Homo sapiens: one gene and its partners. The protein of the gene in region 2 interacts with the protein of the main gene of each other region in a biochemical or structural test. Each region holds a gene or a part of one and is shown on either strand. Other genes may lie near its edges.

Evidence for each region. The genes of interacting proteins can lie anywhere in the genome.
Region 1: the proteins of DGKK (region 2) and GRID2IP interact in a test that uses a peptide from one of them, tested with the Homo sapiens proteins (one large-scale study listed by IntAct).
Region 3: the proteins of DGKK (region 2) and PDLIM7 interact in a test that uses a peptide from one of them, tested with the Homo sapiens proteins (one large-scale study listed by IntAct).
Region 4: the proteins of DGKK (region 2) and USH1C interact in a test that uses a peptide from one of them, tested with the Homo sapiens proteins (one large-scale study listed by IntAct).

The regions. Positions count from the first base shown.
Region 1 is NC_000007.14:6,509,962-6,513,461, reverse strand, and holds part of GRID2IP (delphilin), read left to right. Parts: intron 1-2,422; coding exon 2,423-2,554; intron 2,555-2,755; coding exon 2,756-2,853; intron 2,854-3,061; coding exon 3,062-3,179; intron 3,180-3,309; exon of another isoform or gene 3,310-3,446; intron 3,447-3,500.
Region 2 is NC_000023.11:50,467,283-50,472,849, forward strand, and holds the start of DGKK (diacylglycerol kinase kappa), read right to left. Parts: upstream 3,544-5,567; 5' UTR 3,397-3,543; coding exon 2,752-3,396; intron 1-2,751. UniProt on the Homo sapiens protein: Diacylglycerol kinase that converts diacylglycerol/DAG into phosphatidic acid/phosphatidate/PA and regulates the respective levels of these two bioactive lipids.
Region 3 is NC_000005.10:177,494,805-177,499,067, forward strand, and holds the start of PDLIM7 (PDZ and LIM domain protein 7), read right to left. Parts: upstream 2,801-4,263; 5' UTR 2,724-2,800; intron 1,720-2,723; 5' UTR 1,709-1,719; coding exon 1,613-1,708; intron 1-1,612. UniProt on the Homo sapiens protein: May function as a scaffold on which the coordinated assembly of proteins can occur. May play a role as an adapter that, via its PDZ domain, localizes LIM-binding proteins to actin filaments of both skeletal muscle and nonmuscle tissues.
Region 4 is NC_000011.10:17,506,417-17,509,916, forward strand, and holds part of USH1C (harmonin), read right to left. Parts: intron 3,423-3,500; coding exon 2,940-3,422; intron 2,814-2,939; coding exon of another isoform or gene 2,706-2,813; exon of another isoform or gene 1-2,705. UniProt on the Homo sapiens protein: Anchoring/scaffolding protein that is a part of the functional network formed by USH1C, USH1G, CDH23 and MYO7A that mediates mechanotransduction in cochlear hair cells. Required for normal development and maintenance of cochlear hair cell bundles.

The DNA of each region.
Region 1 (3,500 bases), on a different chromosome or scaffold from region 2:
CATCACTTGAGCTCAGGAGCTCAAGATTAGCCTGGGCAACATAGCAAGAGCCTGTCTCTACCAAAAAAAAAAAAAGTTTTAATTTAGCCAGGTGTGATGCACACCTGTAGTCCCGGCTACTTAGGAGGCTGAGGTGGGAAGATGGCTTGAGTGCAGGAGATCAAGGCTGCAGTGAGCTATGATCAAGCTACTGCCTCCAGAAAAAAAAAAAGGAAAGAAAAAAAGAAAAAAGAAAGAAACTCACGTGGTTGCCAGACATGCCAACACCACCACCAGGATCATGAGCACACGACCACATCCCACCTGGCTGGTGGGCTCCCAGTGTACTCTTTCTTGCACACACACAGGCCTGCAGTGCCATGTGTGGCTGCCACCTGTCTGTTCAGCGTGCCCTCCGAATGCCCACAAACCCCTGCACTCAGCATGCAGGTCATGTGGATGGAAGGTGTGCCGAAGCCTGTGTTCTACCCTGTTCTAGGCATCCTGCACCTGCTATGAAAGCCGCTGCAGGTGCAGTGGTTCACTCTTGTAATCCCAGCACTTTGGTAGGCTGAGGTGGGTGGATCACTTGAGGTCAGGAGTTCCAAGTCCAGCTTGGGCAACACAACAAGACCCCCATATATTCAAAATATTTAAAAATCAGCCAGGGGTGGCCGTGCGCGGTGACTCACGTCTGTAATCCCAGCACTTTGTGGAGCTGAGGCAGGCCAATCACGTGAGGTCAGGAGTTCGAGACAAGCCTGGCCAACATGGGGAAACCTCATCTGTACTAAAAATACAAAAATAAGCCAGGTGTGGTGGTACGCAGTTGTAATTCCAACTACTCGGGAGGCTGAGGCAGGAGAATTGCTTGAACCTGGGAGACGGAGGTTGCAGTGAGCTGAGATCGCACCACTACACTCCAACCTGGGCAACACGGTGAGACTCCATCTCAAAGAAAAAAAAAATAAAAAATTAGCCAGGCGTGGTGGTATGCACCTGTAGTCCCAGCTACTTGGGAGGATGAGGTGGGAGGAGCACTTGAGCTCAGGAGTTGGAGACCAGCCTGGGCAACATAGCAAAAAAATTTGAAATTAGCTGGGTGTGGTGGCACACACCTGTAATCCCAGCTGCAGGGGAGGCTCAGGCAGGAGGATCTGTTGAGCCTGGGATTCAAGGCTGCACTGAGCCTTGATTGCACTCCAGCCTGGGGGACAGAGTGAGACCTGTCACAAAAAAAAAAAAAAAAAAGAAGAAAAGAAAAAAAGGCAGGTGTGGTGGCTCACATCTGTAATCCCAGCACTTTCAGAGGCTGAGGCAGGTGGATCACCTGAGGTTAGGAGTTGAAGACCAGCCTGTCCAATATGGTGAAACCCCATCTCTGCTTAAAAAAAAAAAATACAAAAATTTAGCCAGGCATGGTGGTGCATGCCTGTGGTCCCAGCTACTTGGGAAGCTGAGGCTCGAGAATCATTTGAACCTGGGAGGTGGAGGTTGCAGTGAGCTGAGATTGTGCCACTGCACTCCAACCTGGATGAGAAAGCCAGACTCTGAATAAATAAAGAGAGAAAGAGAGAAAGAGACAGAGAGAGAGAAAAGAGAGAAAGAGAGAAAGTGAGAGAAGGAAGAGAAGGAAGGAAAGGAAAGGAAGGAAAGGGAAGGGGCCGCTGCAGAGTTGCTGGTCCTTGTGTGCCCATGAGCTGCAGTCCCAGGGACCCACAATTTGCTAGGGTTTTAGCGAGAAGCTCAGGATCCATGCTGGACCACACATGCCTTACATATCTGCGTAGGCTCAAAAAACTTCTATTTTGGCCGGGAGCAGTGGCTCACACCTGTAATCCCAGCACTTTGGGAGGCCGAGGCAGGCGGATCACCTGAGGTCAGGAACTTGAGACCAGCCTAGCCCACATGTTGAAACCATATCTCTACTAAAAATACAAAAATTAGCCAGGCATGGTGACGGACACCTGTAATCCCAGCTACTTGGGAGGCTGAGGCAGGAGAATCGCTTGAACCTGGGAGGTGGAGGTTGCAGTGAGCTGAGATTGCACCACTGCACTCCCACCTGGGCAACAAGAGCAAAACTCAGTCTCAAAAAAAAAACACTTCTATTTTGCCCATAATCCTCTCTGGGCAGCAGTGACTTGGCCTGGGGCAAGCACAGGGCGTTGAGACTCTGGAAGCTGTTGTCATGAGATCTCTGCTAGGCCCCTGAGTTCAGGCTAGCTGCATTCTGGTGCTGCATTCTGGTGCTGCTCCTGGCACCTGGTTTCTTGCCCTGGGGCTTCCCCTCAAGAGCTGTTCTGGAGGCAAGCAGGGCAGGCCCCGTAGCTTGGGGTCTGCATATTGGTGCAGATGACATCTGCCCTCCCCTCCCTGTTTTGGAGGTCCCTTGTCTGGCTGAGAGGGCAAGAGGGCCCCATGTTCCCTGCATGTCCCACAGCAGAGCCGGAGCCTGAGCTGGACCTGGAGTCCGAGCCCACGCCTGAGCCCCAGCCGCGGAGCTCCCTGCGGGCTTCCTCCATGTGCCGCCGCAGCCTCCGGTCCCAGGGCCTGGAGGCCGGCCTCAGCTGCGGTAAGGCTGGTGTCAGGGGGAGGGTATGAATGGAGCTCAGTTTTCCCACCTGCAAAATGGGCTTGGTGAGGTGGGGAATCCCAGGGAATGGGGCTAAGCAGGGCTCAGGATTGGCCCTCCTGGGTCTGCGGGGCATGTTGGTTCTGGGCCGGGGCCTGAGCCGTAGAGCTCAGATACGGTAATGACATTATTCCCCGGTAGGTCCCAGCGAGTGCCCTGAGATGCCTCTTCCCCTGATCCCAGGCGAGCGCCAGGCAGGCGACGGCACGTCCCTCCCTGAGACCCCCAACCCCAAGATGGTGAGACCTTCTCTGCCCTCCACGTGGGGTCAGTAGGGGGCAGGGAATGGACGGTCCATAGGACTGGGCCCAGGAGACCCAGGCCAAGGCGTCCCTGTGCTGCTTCAGGCTGGGGCATATCCCTGCCTCCCGGCCCACCCAGGCCTGGACCACATTAGGGCTACGAGGGGAAGCAGAATGGGCTGGACTCTCCCCCGTCTCCCTCCAGATGTCAGCCGTCTATGCAGAGCTTGAGTCTCGACTGAACAGCAGCTTCAAAGGGAAGATGGGGACCGTGTCCAAATCCCGGGCTTCCCCTCCAGGCCCCAGCCCAGCAGTCACCACAGGTAGGGCTCCAGCCTCTGTCATCTACTGTCTGGGTGTTTCCCTCCACCCCAGGCTCAGCCCTGGAGCTGCTTCTCTGCTCCATCAGGGTCAGGGTTGTCCCAGTCCCTCCCATGGCCCTGTGACCCTCACCTCAGCTGTGGATCAAGAAAGTAGCCTGGGTACCGTGGGTCGTGCCTGTAATCCCAGCACTTTGGGAGGCCGAGGCAGGAGGATCAATGGAGCCCAGGAGTTTGAGACCAGCCTGGCAACATAGTGAGGCCCCATCTCTAACAAAAAAAATACAAAATTAGCTGGGCATGGTTGCATATGCCTGTAGTCCC
Region 2 (5,567 bases):
AGAAAACATGAGCCCCCTTTTCTCAGTCAATTGCAGGTTCTGAAACTTTCCTGAAATTCCAAAAAAGAGCAGACTACAAGGCTGAAAGATGTTGGTTTTTTGCTACAATACCAGTCAACAAAATTATCTGGGAGAAACTTGCAGTCATATTCAAACACTTGGTTTTGCTCATTTCATCCTTTGAATTATCAGGATAGTTTCATGCTTGCTATGGAGGATTTCATTGCATGATGAGACCTGTATTTTGTTTTGTTCCCTGACATTTTGGGCACATATGTATAGTATGTGTGTGTGTTAGGGGTGTGTGCACGCCTGTGCGTGTTGCACAGTTTTTTCCCCCCAAGCTTGCCTCGAGGAGGCAGTGTTTGAAAACAACATCACCCCAGCTAAGATGACAACCTGTTTGCCTTGAATGTTAAGATACAAGCCAGCTGGTTGCAGGTGCCATTTGTCTGAGGAAGATGCAGGAGAGAATGATCCTATCACTGAAGATCAGATGTTCCCAGCTGCACCAGAGAGCAATTGCATAGCAACATTGAGGGTGTTGTAAAAGGGTTTGGCTCCAAGCAATTTAATTTGAGCACGTACCTAGATCCTTTACATCCTTCAAAATTCTCCAGAGCCACTGATTAGTTAATCTGCATGGCCTTCTTAACGGATGGTCGTGGTTCTTAACCCCATTCTACAGATAAGTGATTCAACAAATGTCTGGCTCTACTAAGGGCAAAGTCAAACCCCTGGGATCCTGGTCTCCTGCCAGTGTTGCCAGATGTCTGTGGGTCAGCTAGCCAGCACGTCTGAGTGGGCACTACGTAGAGGAAACTAATCTGATTCCCCTTACCTTAATCTTCCTCATCTGTCTGGCAATGACATTTTCCTGTCAAACAGGTAGGAGATGCTTTCGCATGGGAGCAGGGGATGCTTTTCACTGGGGGAAGGGTCCTGGTCGCCAGTCAGCCTTTCAGAGGCCAAAGGGGAGATGCATTCTCTGGGTATTACGTCCCCACGTGTCAGTTTCACAGCCATGTTCCCAAAATTTCGCTTAAGATGGCCACAGGTCAGGTGATTCCTGCTTGTCTCTTTCCCACCAGCTTAATGCAAACTCTTCCAAAAAGACAAGATCAATCACCCGGTGAGGGTGAGCTCCCAAATCTAGCCACCCCAACTTTGCCCTTCTTAAGATCACTGCAGGAAAGGGTATTTTCAGGAAGGGGAGGGATACATCCCCTGGTGAGAGCTAGGGTGTTGAATTTTTAAAAACTTATCAGAGTCTCCCACCGTCATGTTTTATTTATTTTTAAACCTCTGCACTTTCTTTTCTCTGTGAAACTTTTCATTTTAGCCTTCTTTTTCAGTTATTCGTCATTGCAGATATTTTGCAAACTCAAGCCTCCCTACTAAGAACTCAGGAAGCAACCAATGCTTCCATTTCGTGATGCCAATCTGCCCCCTCCCCTCCCGCATTCTACATTCTATAAGTGTGCGGTCCACAGCAGAAGGGTTCCTGAGCCGTGTCCTTATGGTCTGCTAGGCAGCAGGATGGACCGGTATTGTTCGTGTGTTGTGTTATTCGTTTGTGTGTGTGTGTGTGTGTGTGTGAATGCGCGCGCGTGTGTATGTCTTCCTGCAGGGGAAGCTAAATTGAGGTGTGTGTGTGCATTATCCTGGTTTTCAGTTTTGTGGAACGAAGTTTAGGGTAAAGGAAGAGTAGGGAGAGTGCAGAGAAAGCAGGAAAGACAGGCATACTCCCGCTTAAGAGCAGACGGGGTTTCAGGGTCCAAGGTAAACACGAAAACCTTTTTCCTCCCTACTCCCCTTGGGCGAGTGCCAGAAGATTCTCCACTCATCTTTTCCCGGCTAAGTGTAACGATTTAGAAGGCGTCGCGGTAGACTGGTAGAGATGAAGGTTCCCCTTCACACGTTCTGCAATCCCAACTCCTATTTTCGTGTCTCTAAACCAGGACTCCTGTACCATTCCAATTGGCCCTGGTGCGGGATGCCAGTTGCCCCGTTTGTGACGCTGCGCAACATTGTATCACTGCGTTTGCACCTACCTGCTGGGAAATCCTGCAGACAGATGGAATGGTGGCTTCGACACACGCATGCTCTCCCCCTCCTCCCGGAGAACCCTGCCCTTCCCCTGCAGTGCGCGTGGGCGCCGCCCATCCCCTCGTCCTCACCAGGAGTACCAGCTCGAAGCAGCCGGCAGAGGCGCCGGGCACCTCCCTGGAGGGCCGCCAGTTGCGCCCAGCTGAGGCGCCCCCTCCCCAGTGGCAGGGAGGGGGCCAAGCAGGCGAAGGCTCCGCAGCTTGGGCCTCTGCGGCAGTGACCGCGGCTAAGAGGTGTGTCCCACCGCCCCCACTCAATCCGTCCGCTATGTATTCGGGGCCAGCCCCAAACACTTCTCCAGGTCTCTTGCGCTCCCCGAGGGTATCTTCCTCCTCTCTTTCAAGATATTGGCGCTCACCGCACTGTCGCTTCTCTTCAAGGGGAAAACTGCTCCGATTCCCACCCCCTGCTGTCACCCCCGTTTCTAGCCCCAAACAGCCCATTCTCGATTCCCACATGTTGCTTCCCGCCTCCCAACCCCTTCCCATTCCCCCGGGTTCCCCATCCCTGCATCTTTCTCAGCATCTTGGCCAGCCAGTGCCAGACAAGCGGGATGCAAGGGGTACCCGGAGTCCCGCGGGCTCCATAGCCATCTGACTTCGCCTTGCTTCTTTTCCCCGCTTCAGGGGGTCTTTTGCTTACCTTTATTCTGGACCACGACATTGGCGTTCTGGGCGATGGCGATGGCGATGGCGATGGCGAGGTCTTTAGACCTCTCTCTCGAGTGTCCACCGGACATTGCAATAGACATGGTGCTGGACTTGGACGGAACTCTGGAGCCGCCTCAGGGCAGAACTCTGGGGCCAGCTCTGTCACAGGTTCTGGGGTCGGCTCTGGGGCCAGCTCTGGGGCAACTTCTGGAGTCAGCTCTGGGGCCGGCTCTGGGACCGACTCTAGGGCAGGTTCTGGAGTCGGCTCTGGGGCAGACTCTGTGGCAGGTTCTGGGGCCGGTTCTGGGGCCGGCTCTGTGGCAGGTTCTGGGGCCGGCTCTGTGGCAGGTTCTGGGGCCGGTTCTGAGGCCGGCTCTGTGGCTGGTTCTGGGGTCGGTTCTGTGTACAGTTCTGTGGCTGATTCTGAGGTCGCCTCTGGACAGGGACCTGGAGCAAGCTCTGGACAGGGCTCTGGTATGGGTTCTGGCGAAGCCTCGGAGAGCAGCGGCGGAGCCGGCGGCGGAGCCGGTGGTGGTGGCGGCGGCGGCCAAGGCGGCGGAGGCTCTGGAGACTCAGCGGGCTGCTCTCCATCCTGAGGCGGGGCAGTGCCCTGGGCTGCGGCAGCTCCGCGGTCCATGGCCGCACACCGCTTCAGGTCTGGGCAGCCTGAGTCCCTAAGCCTGGAAGGCTAAAGTACCCTCGGGCGCCCCGCCCACTCCAGTCCGGCAGCCCCTCGCAGGGTGCCAAACTTTCCCCCATCCCACTCCATGGCTGGCTTGGCTCTGAGGTCTAACCCGTGGGCGCTCAGCGTCTCCCTATGCTGGAACACGCCCCTCAGTGTGCGCACACCTCTTCGTAAGCAGCCACGGGTCCGATGGGCGGGAAGCAGAGGGGCTTGCGAACGCGGACTGGGCAGAGCGCTTGATGACCTCCTAGCGACGCGCGGGAGGGGAGGGGAGAGACAAAAAGGGGAGGGGGAGTGGAGCGGCGTGGAGGTTGGGGGGCGGGCTGGAGCCTTGCCGTGTTTAACCCTTTAGTGACACGAATGAAAAAAAAAAGCCAGAGGCGAAGTTGAGGGTCTTTGCAATCCCCCAACCACTTAGCTGCTGGTCAGAATAGCTTCCATCCTGTGTCTGCTCTCTCACCTCAGCAGCAGGTGAGCTTAGCCTCGGACCAACCTCTTGCCCCCCATCTCCAAGCCTCGATGGGCAAGTAATGCTTTTTATCTAAGCCGGGAAAAGAAATTAAGCGGCATGGTGTGTGTGTGGTGGGGGGGGGGGGTGCGGGGGGGGCGGGTGTTCAGCCTCCTTTGGATTGAAGTACAATTTGACCCTCTTCGGTTTTTTGCATTTCTGAGCTTTGCCGTTGGGTACAGAGTTTGAGGTGATTCGGGAAAGGAGTGTGATGAGGGAGGCTGGCGCCCCGGCTTTCCGCAGCCTGCAGCCTCCCCGAGAGCAAGTCGAGAGTGCCCCGGCAGCAGCTGGGCTTCGCGCTCGGGAGCTGAGGCTATCTGGGCGTCTGTCTGGCTCGCCTATGCTATAGGAGCCTGCCTTGTGCTTTTAGCTGGATTTCCCAGCCATCAGCAGGAGTTTGTTTTTCCGCCCCCCCCAAACTTGTTAACGCGCGCGCGCGCGCGCGTGTGTGTGTGTGTCTGTGTGTGTGTGTGTGTGTGTCTTGGGCTGGGGAAATTCACTGCAACACCCACACCCTTTTCACCTCCTGAAGCAGTCTGACATTAGAGATGGGAGATTCTCTTGGGAAGAGAACGACTGATGCCTAGCGCAGCACCTTTCCCACCACATCGGAAGACTTTAGAAGCTCTTTCTGTTATAGTCACGTACACATACACACAAACCATCATCTTAGTCAGACCTAGACTTTAGACGCCAATATATTACCAATTGTAATTAAAATTTGAGAAGACTACCTGTTAAGCCACAGCTGGGTGGGGGGAGCGGACGGGGGAGAAATACCTGTAAACCTGATTTGAAATATGACAAGTGAATTTATCTCCCATACACATAATGCTGCAGTTGTGGGTAGCAGCCTTCTTTCTGCAGCCCCTTCTCTAGCCATCTACTCCCAGACCATATCCCCCACTATTCCCTCTTCTTTTGCCAACGGACACTGACCTAGCCAGAATTTTCTAGAATCTGCAACATCTTTCTGTTGCCTATACTATGTCTCAGCAATAAATAATACCATAAGAGCACAGTTTCACCTAAATCCCTCCAAAGACCAGAATCTCTGGTGAGGTCTGCATTTCCCAGATCCTCGCTGCAGCCTCACAGCCTAAGCCCACCTTTCCAGAGATGTGTTAACACTGCTTGGCAGCTACTAAGCTAGTGCAGGGACCGTCCTTAAACTCTGGGGATGGGAAGACCAGGAGAAGTGAGCCCTATCAATTCCCTCACGTGGCAGTCCTCCTTCCAGTAAATTCACCTTAGGAGCCCACTCTCTTCACCCTCCTTGGGCTTGTTCTCCTTTCCCCTATCCCACACTCAAGTAGCCAAGCCGCCTTTAACCCTAAGAGTTCAGGACTGAAATATACAGGTGCCAGATCTCATTATTGGATCTGGTGCATTAAAGTGCCAGATCTGACCAACCAGCAAGTCCAGGACTGGAGATCACTTTTCTGGCTCTCACACCTTAATGGAATCCCTGTCCTTAGAAGGGGCAGATATCCCACATTTAAATTTTGCTTTTTACTAAACCCAACATGTAGTTAGAAGGGCTGAAGGCTGAGCAGTCACAGAGTAAGATGGCCTCTTGGGTTACAGATGGCCTCTTGGGGTTTGGCATAGACAG
Region 3 (4,263 bases), on a different chromosome or scaffold from region 2:
CCCCCAGTCCCAGACGTTACCTCATCTCCCAGGCCTGGGCCCACAGCCAGCCCTTGCCCCTCCCACCTCCCTCCATTCTGGGGTCAGGGGAGGGGGAGGGGGCTGGCCTAACTCAGAAAAGCCCACCTCACCCACCCATGTGGGCCCAGGTCCAACTCCAGGGCTGGGATCAGCTAGTGGCCCCGCCCACATGCCAGGGATGCTGACCAGGGAGCTGGAGCCCGGAGTGCCCCCAACAGGCCATATCTGAAAGTCATCTCCATCAGGGAAGAAACTGAGGTTCAGGCTCCCCAGACACACTGGGCCAGCACTTTCCCAGGGAGCAGGACGTCAGGTAGGTTTCAGGGCTGTGTGAGGGCTATGTAGTGGGACGTGTGTCATAGGGCAACCACTGCCTCACTACCCTGCTGGCGGGGCAGGTTCCAGGAGAATGCCATCAAAGGACCCCTGAGAAGAGCACTGCTGGCCTGCCCACCCTAACCCCCACGCCCAGCTCCTACAGACAGACTCCAGCTTGAGCCCCTCCTCAGGCCACGACCCTCTGGGCCCCTCCAGGCTGGGCTTGCCTTGGGCTTCCTGACAACAGCTGCCTGCCCACCCGGCGCCTGGGTGGGTCTCTTGGGGCAGGCGGATATAGGGGCAGGAAGTCCCCACCCCCTCCTGACCCCCAGGCCAGTCAGAGATGCCAGCCGACAGGCTGGCCTCACCCACTCTGGGCAGGCAATTTGTTGTGTCTCACAACTGGACCATATAGCTGGAGCTGCAGCCTGGTGACCAGCTGAGAGGCCCACCAGTGGGGTTCAGGGGGCCAGGCCTAGGCCAGCCCTTTTCAGCTCTGCAGACCGCAGCCACTGTTGGCCATCCCAGCGTGGGGCTGCATTCTTGGGCTTATAAGGCAATCCCCCTGCTACAGGGAGGAGCCAGCCTCCAGCTCCACCCACACCAGGGCAGGCTCTTGGAAGCTGAAGTTAAGCCCCTAGAATGGAGCCCTGTCCTACACTTCTGCTTGGGGTCAAAGGCCACCACATCCTGAATGGGAACAGTGGATGTGGGTCCTTACATAGGCTGGGGAGAGACCCCTTCTACCCACAAAAAATGTACGCCATGCTGTGCCTCAATTCCAATCCCTGCTTCACCATGGACTCGATGAGCGAGCCCCGCCACCTCTCCATGAGTTCTTCTCTCATCTGGAAAAACGGGATGAGGATTGCTATTCCCTGGGCGGCAGTGAGGCTGAAGTGAAATCCTATAGTCACAGTGTCCTGCCTGGGGCCTGGCTCCAAGCATTGCCACCTCAAGTTTAGATACCTCCTGAAATGTTAGGCTCCCATCCTGCACAATGAGCCTCCCTCCAGCCCTCAGAGGTGGCCACAGGAGCTTGGGAGAACAGCATCGGGTACAGTGCAGGGCTGGAGAAGCCTGGGTGCTCCCTCCCAGTATCCACCTCATTGGGAGTCCTTGTGGCAGGCAGGTACCACTACATCTCCGGACCTAGACATCTCCTGGCCTGCTGGCCCCTGACCAGCTCCTGTTAGGACTCCCCCCATCACCCTCTGGAGACCTAAGCACCGAAAGACCGCTGGGGGAGCCCCCTCCCCAAACCTAGGCTCACCCGGGAAATGGAGAGGGGCACATTGAAGTCCTTGCCCCCTTGCAGCCGGAAGCCCCAAGGTGCTGGCCCCTCCAGCACTACTTTGAAGGAATCCATGATGCCGGCTCCTGAGAGGAGAGAAGAGAAGGTGAGTGGCCAGCATGGTGGGCGGGCAGGCAGGCAGGCCGGGCCAGCTCAGGATACCAGCCTTGGACAGGGGCCAGGCAGGCACGGGCAGCCCCTGAGCACGCCCAAGCCATAGGAGGCAGGTATTTTGTCAGGCTGGCCTGGGCTGCTGGCTGGCGGACCTCACTTTGGAAAGACAGGAGCAGCCCCCCTCCCCTTGGGACTGGAACGGTGAGGGGTGCCTGAATCCAGGCTTGAGGTTCTTTGCAACCAGGGGTGGGCCGAGGGACTAAACTGGCGCGGCCTCCCCCCAAGCCAGCCTGGAGCCTCGGGCGGCCGGGTGAGTCAGGGGCCGGCTCTCCTCTCCCCCGCCCCCAGGTCCCGGCAGGCAGGCCGCGGCTGGAGCCTGCTCGGACTATATAAGGCGTGTAAGCTGACACTGTGCGGAGAGCCAGCGGAGGGAGCACACGGGGGCTTGGGACGCGAGGGGGGGGGGAGGGGAGGGGAGGGGAGGGGAGGGGAGGGAGGCGGCTGCAGCGGATCCTCCTAGCCATTCCGGGACCAGTCGAGGCTGCTGGGAGCCAGGGCGGGACCCCTGGGTGCTGAAGAAGGGGAAGGCGGGAGTGGGGTGCGGCCCCTGTGGAGACAGATGGGGGCTGGGACCCTCAAGCATAGCTTGGAGGGGGATCCTTCCCCGAGCCCAGTGGGGGGTGGTGCCTCCCACACAGAACTGCTCCCACACCGACGTGACTCAGTTTCCCCTTAGTCCCCCGCCCGGGCCCCATGCATTAGACTGGCCCCGGCCGCAGGAAGCGGCGCAGGCGCCAATCGGCCCCGCCGCAGCCGGCTTAGCGGCAGGAAGGCGGGGGCGGGGGCGGAGGCAGGGGCCAGGGCCAGCGGGAGGAAGCACAGCCTGGACCACGACCCCCAGTGCCCTTTGTGGTCCTCAGCAGGCCCCGGGCGCCCGCCTGGTGCAGCCCAAGACGCCCCGCGCGGTCGTCGATACCTGCTTGGCCCGGCCAGGGCGCTGCTCTGCGTCGGGCTCCAGGGAGCCTCGTTGGGATCGGCCGCCAGTGTTCTGACCCCGCCCCCACAGCCACCCTCCACTTTGAGCGCGCGGACGGGGGCGGGGCACCAGGCCACGCCCTCGTCGCGACCACGCCCACTAGACTTTCTCCGCTGGTGGAAAGCCCCACCCAGCTCTTCCGTCCTGCCCAATCACCAAGTCCCGTCGGGCTTAGAGCTGAGAGGCCTCGCCGACCCGGGCCCTGCAACGGGGCGGAGTCGGGAGGGGGCCGGGGCTGCGGGTCGCCTCCTTAGGGAAGCGCTGCCTCGCCCAGTCCCTCGCACCGCCCGCTGGCGGAGGGAGAGGAAAGCGGACCTTCAAACCAGACCGACCTGGGACATAGTAGTCTCTGAACCTTAGTTTGCTACTCCGAAAAATGGGACGATCATACTCGCCTCGCAGGGCTGCCGCGAGTGTCGGTATCGTAGGCGCAACCCTCGGGGACTGCAGAATCTGTAAATCAGAGGGGCTGGGGGAGACAAGTTGAGGGGGACAGGGGCGTTTAAAGCTAGAGTTGCGCAACGCTCTGCCGAAGGCAGGAAAACAGGGCAGGAGCGGACGCCGGATGTCCCTGCAACCCCGAGCCGACCCGCGCACCGTCGGAAGCGCCGCGTCCCGCTCCACCTTGGCCAGAGCGGACTGCGCCGCCTGGGAGGCGTCCTCAGAGTCCCGGCCCCGCGTTCAGCCCAGGCACTAGGGCCGGCGGCACGGACACTGAGCACATGCGGGTGTCGGGGTGAGGGAAGGGGCGTCCACCCTCCACTCGCTTGGTGGTCCCGGCCCATCACCTCCTCCTAGGACAGAGTCGCTGCAGTTCTCCCCTCTCCATCCACAGTCATCACACCCACCCTGTTCTGCACAAACCGCCGTGAGAGTTCTCGTCGTTAAAGACCTTCTCTTGACCCCACATCCCTCTCCAGCTACTACCCTTTAATTCTCCTCTCGAGAGTAAAATTCCTCCAGGGAGTTGTCTGTTTATCGCGTCTCCACTTGCTTTCCTTCAGTTATCTCTTGAAGCCATGCCAGGCGGGCTCTTGTCCGCACCCGTCCCCTGAGATCTCTCTTCTCAAGGTCCCCTGTGGCCTGGAGGCCATGGGGCCATGGAATCCGTGGTGGTTAAGTTTCATCCTGCCCTGCCTAGGGGCAGCACTGGTCCAGGTTGATCCTTTTCCGCGAAACACCCTTTTTCCCTGGCTTCACAGCTTCCCCCTGCCCCACTGGCCCCTCCTTCCCATCCTCCTCTGCCTCTGGCCTTGGCCATCTGATGTCGCCTCTCTTTATGCTCACCCCCTGAGACCCCGTACTGTCCTGTGGCTTTCAACACCACCTATATGCAAAGGCATCCCATGTTTCATGGCCAGCCTGACCTCTCCCCAGGAACTCTAACTCCATTATCCAAAACCCTGCCTAGATGTTTACTAGATCAGGGGTCCCCAACTCCCCGTTTGTGGCCTGTTAGGAACTGGGCTGCACAGCAGAA
Region 4 (3,500 bases), on a different chromosome or scaffold from region 2:
GGGGAGCTGACGCAACCTGTCTGCTTGGCTCTAACCCACTTGATCTTTTTGGGCAAGATGTATCAAATCAGTTCACAGCCCTGCCCCCAAACCCTCCCCAGTGTCCGCATTGACTACTGAGCTCATTGGCTTGACTCCCAAGGCCTTTCATGAGCTTCTCTAGCTTCCTTTTCAGCCTTATCTCTCACTCCTCGCCACGCTCCTCACACTGCCTAGCTTTAGCCTCAAAAAATGCCAGGCTTTCTTGCCTTGAGGCCTTTGCACGTGCTCTTCCTTCTTCCGCTTTGCCTCCTAGGTCTTAAGTTGGGCGTCACTGCCTTCTGGAAGCCTCCCTTGAGCTTTTCCTCTACTCCAGCCCTCTTCCTTATTATAGCACCTGTGCTTCCTCCGTCTCCACGCTGATGGTGTGGCGGGTGCCTACTTTTCTTTGTTCCCCACCAGACTGTCTTGAGAAGGGAGACTGCAGCTGTCTATCCAGCAGGGATTCCCAGTGCCCTGCATAGTGCCTTGGCATATAGTAGGTGCTCAATAAGCATGTGTTGAATGAATAAATGAATGACTAAATAGTATGGTGAGAACATGGGACAGTGCCTGTGGATAGATCTGGCCCTGAAAACCCCCCTATGGCCGGTGCTGGTGTGGCAGGCACAAGTGTCAAGCCAACACAGGTGTTTGTTTCCATGACTTGGGGCCTGCTGGTGGCTGGGCTGACTGTGTGGGCGTGTGGTCACTCACACTTCCTGCTGCAGCACTGATGACAGCTTGCCAGGGGCATGCAGGGAGGAGGAGGGTGGGTGGTACAAGGGTGAGAGGTGGGCCAAATGAAGCCAACCAAGCAACAGCCCCCTGGCTTTTGAGGCTGGGACAACCCTGGCTTTGATGTCGCTTGTGACATTTATAGTCCAGTTCTTCAGAGGCTCCTTGTGTTGGGGGGCTTTTAACCTTCCCTGGGCTCTGATCAGGAACTAACAGTGGGAACTTGGTGATGCCTTGAAGAATCTGAGAAGTCTGGACTCTGTCTTGAATCTTGATCCTGACTCAAAGTTTTGCTGACACTGAGATTGCTAAGATCCCAGGTTTGCAGCTTCACCCAAATTTTCTTTTACTCTGGACTATCAATAACCATAGTTAATGTCTACTGAACATCCACGATGTGCCTGCCACTCTTGCCATTCTTAACTTAGAATGTGTCCATGTATTAACTTATTTGATTCGAATAGGTAGCTGCCATTAGCATTCCTATTTTTGGACAGGGATGCCCAGGCTCAGATAGATGAAGTAGCATGTGTTCAGTTACCTAGCTAGTAAGTGGCACAGCCAGGATTCAAACCCAGGCAGGCCAACTCCCTGCTACTCCAACTTGCCATCTTTATGTTCCCTGCACTTGCAATGCCCTTGCTCCCATCCTCCATGTGTTGCCATCCCTCAAGGCTCAGCTCGTAAGCCCTCTACTCTACAGAGGTGTCTTCAATCTTCAGTTAGAATGAATCCCTCCCATAGCGCATGGCTTATGCATATTTTATAGCAGAAGCCTGCCTGGGCAGCAGCTCATCCTTCAGATGGCAAAGTCCTGGAAAGCACAGGCATGTCAATCTCCTCTGCATCCTCTTCAGCACTGCTCCCCTCTCCCCTTCACAGAGAGAGGCCCCAGGCAGGTACTCAATCAAAGTGGAATCAAATTTGTTGAGGAAAAGCTACTGCTCATCTTGATGGAGGCCACTTACAGAGAAAAATGTTGTGCAAGGCTAACTCAGCTCTAGAAACCAGCTCCTGGCTGGGCTCTGGGGAAAGATGTCCCGAGAACAGGCAGATTTCTTCCTGTCAAAGCTGCAGGGCTCACGACCCCAACCAGAGGTCCAGAAAGGGTCCCTCTGAGAGTCTCCCGCTGGAAGCTTCAGCCTTGCTGGCATCTGGCACTTTCTTCACTCCCACCTTCCTTGTAAGCTCTCCTGAGTGCTCTGAGATGCTTGTCCTGCTCTCCACGCAGGAACTCAAATCCATGCAGGGAAGGTTAATAAAAACCACTGGTCAGGTGCTATTGACTATGCCCTCCCTCAGCAACCCCTGCTACCCTCAGCTGACATGAGATGCCTTTGCACTGACTCAAGCCTGGCCTCATGGCTACGGGAGTGGAATAATATTTTGTTTTTCCCTTCATGGGATCCAAGCTCCCTGTCTTCCTCAGAGATTGCATGTTTCAAAATAGTCTTTGGATTACGAATAATTAATAAGAAATATGTCTTTTTCAGAAAGACACTGTTCATCTTCCTAACATCCAAGAAAAACATTCCTATTCTTTTAATAGTAAATTATTTCTAGGAACTCTCTCATCTTCATTTTTTCTATAGCTGGAAATTGGCCAGAAATTTCTGGGTATTACACTTCAAGCCAGTGCAGTTGGCCAGTACTGTAGAAAATGGCACTGGAATGTCCTAATACTGCATTTGATGGTACAGTGTTATCACTTCATTTACAGAGCCAAATACGCCCCTGCTTCCTCCTCCCCTCCCTTTTTTTCCCGTTAAATCAGGAGCCATTTCCCATATTCAAGGCTTTCTGGGATAATATCAGGAAGTGACTGGATGTGACAGAGTGCTGGCTATTCATTAACATAGACTTCCAAGTCCTACATTGAAAGTTACCAGCCTACACTAGCAAAGAAGAGCTAAGAGAGAGCAATGAATATCAAATGGACACACCGTTGCTTACCCCAAAGGTCCCAGGCCATTCACCATACAATACAGCACTTCAAAATCAGTGAGAACCACCATATACATGCAGGATGTCCACACATGCACACGGAGGGGGCATTCCTGGAAAATGGGGTGAGATGATGTTTCTTTCTGTCTCCACTCTCAGGAGCAGTGGAGGACATGGGAAACAGCAGTTCTCCCCACTCTTCCTACTTCCAAACATAGCATGCAGAACAGGGACATTACCTTTGGGGTGGGTGGGAAGCTCTGTTCAGGGACAGGGGAGTTAGTGGGCTTCCCACTGTGGTTCTTTGCCTCCCAGTCCTCCACTGGATTGCCTGTGTCCCCAGTGCGGAAGGGATGGTTGCTCAGTGCTTCTTCCAGCGCCGAGGGCAGTGGGCGGGTGGGAGTGAGGTCTTGGGTGGGAACGGATGGCGGGGGAGGGATGGGAATGGGGGGTGGAGTGCGCTGCACCCATGGAGAGGATGAGGCGCTCACATGGCCAGATAAGGGAAGGACAGGGGGCGCCGGGACCTTGTGGGGTGGGTTGGAGGGTGGAGGGTGGGGCATCACAGGCAAGGCAGAGGGAGTCTTGGGGGGATAGTAGAACATGTCCAAAGGGATGTCGTCCAGGTCAGTGGTGTGCAGGTGCAGTCCGCCTGCGAAGCGTCTCAAGGGTGGGGCCAGGGGAGACACAGAAGGCGGGGGAGGCGGGGGCCCTGTGGTCATCTGGGGGTGTTGCAAGGAAGTTCTGTAATTGTCACTCTGCTTAGAGCTCCACTTCACAATACAGCGAGCACTATGCTC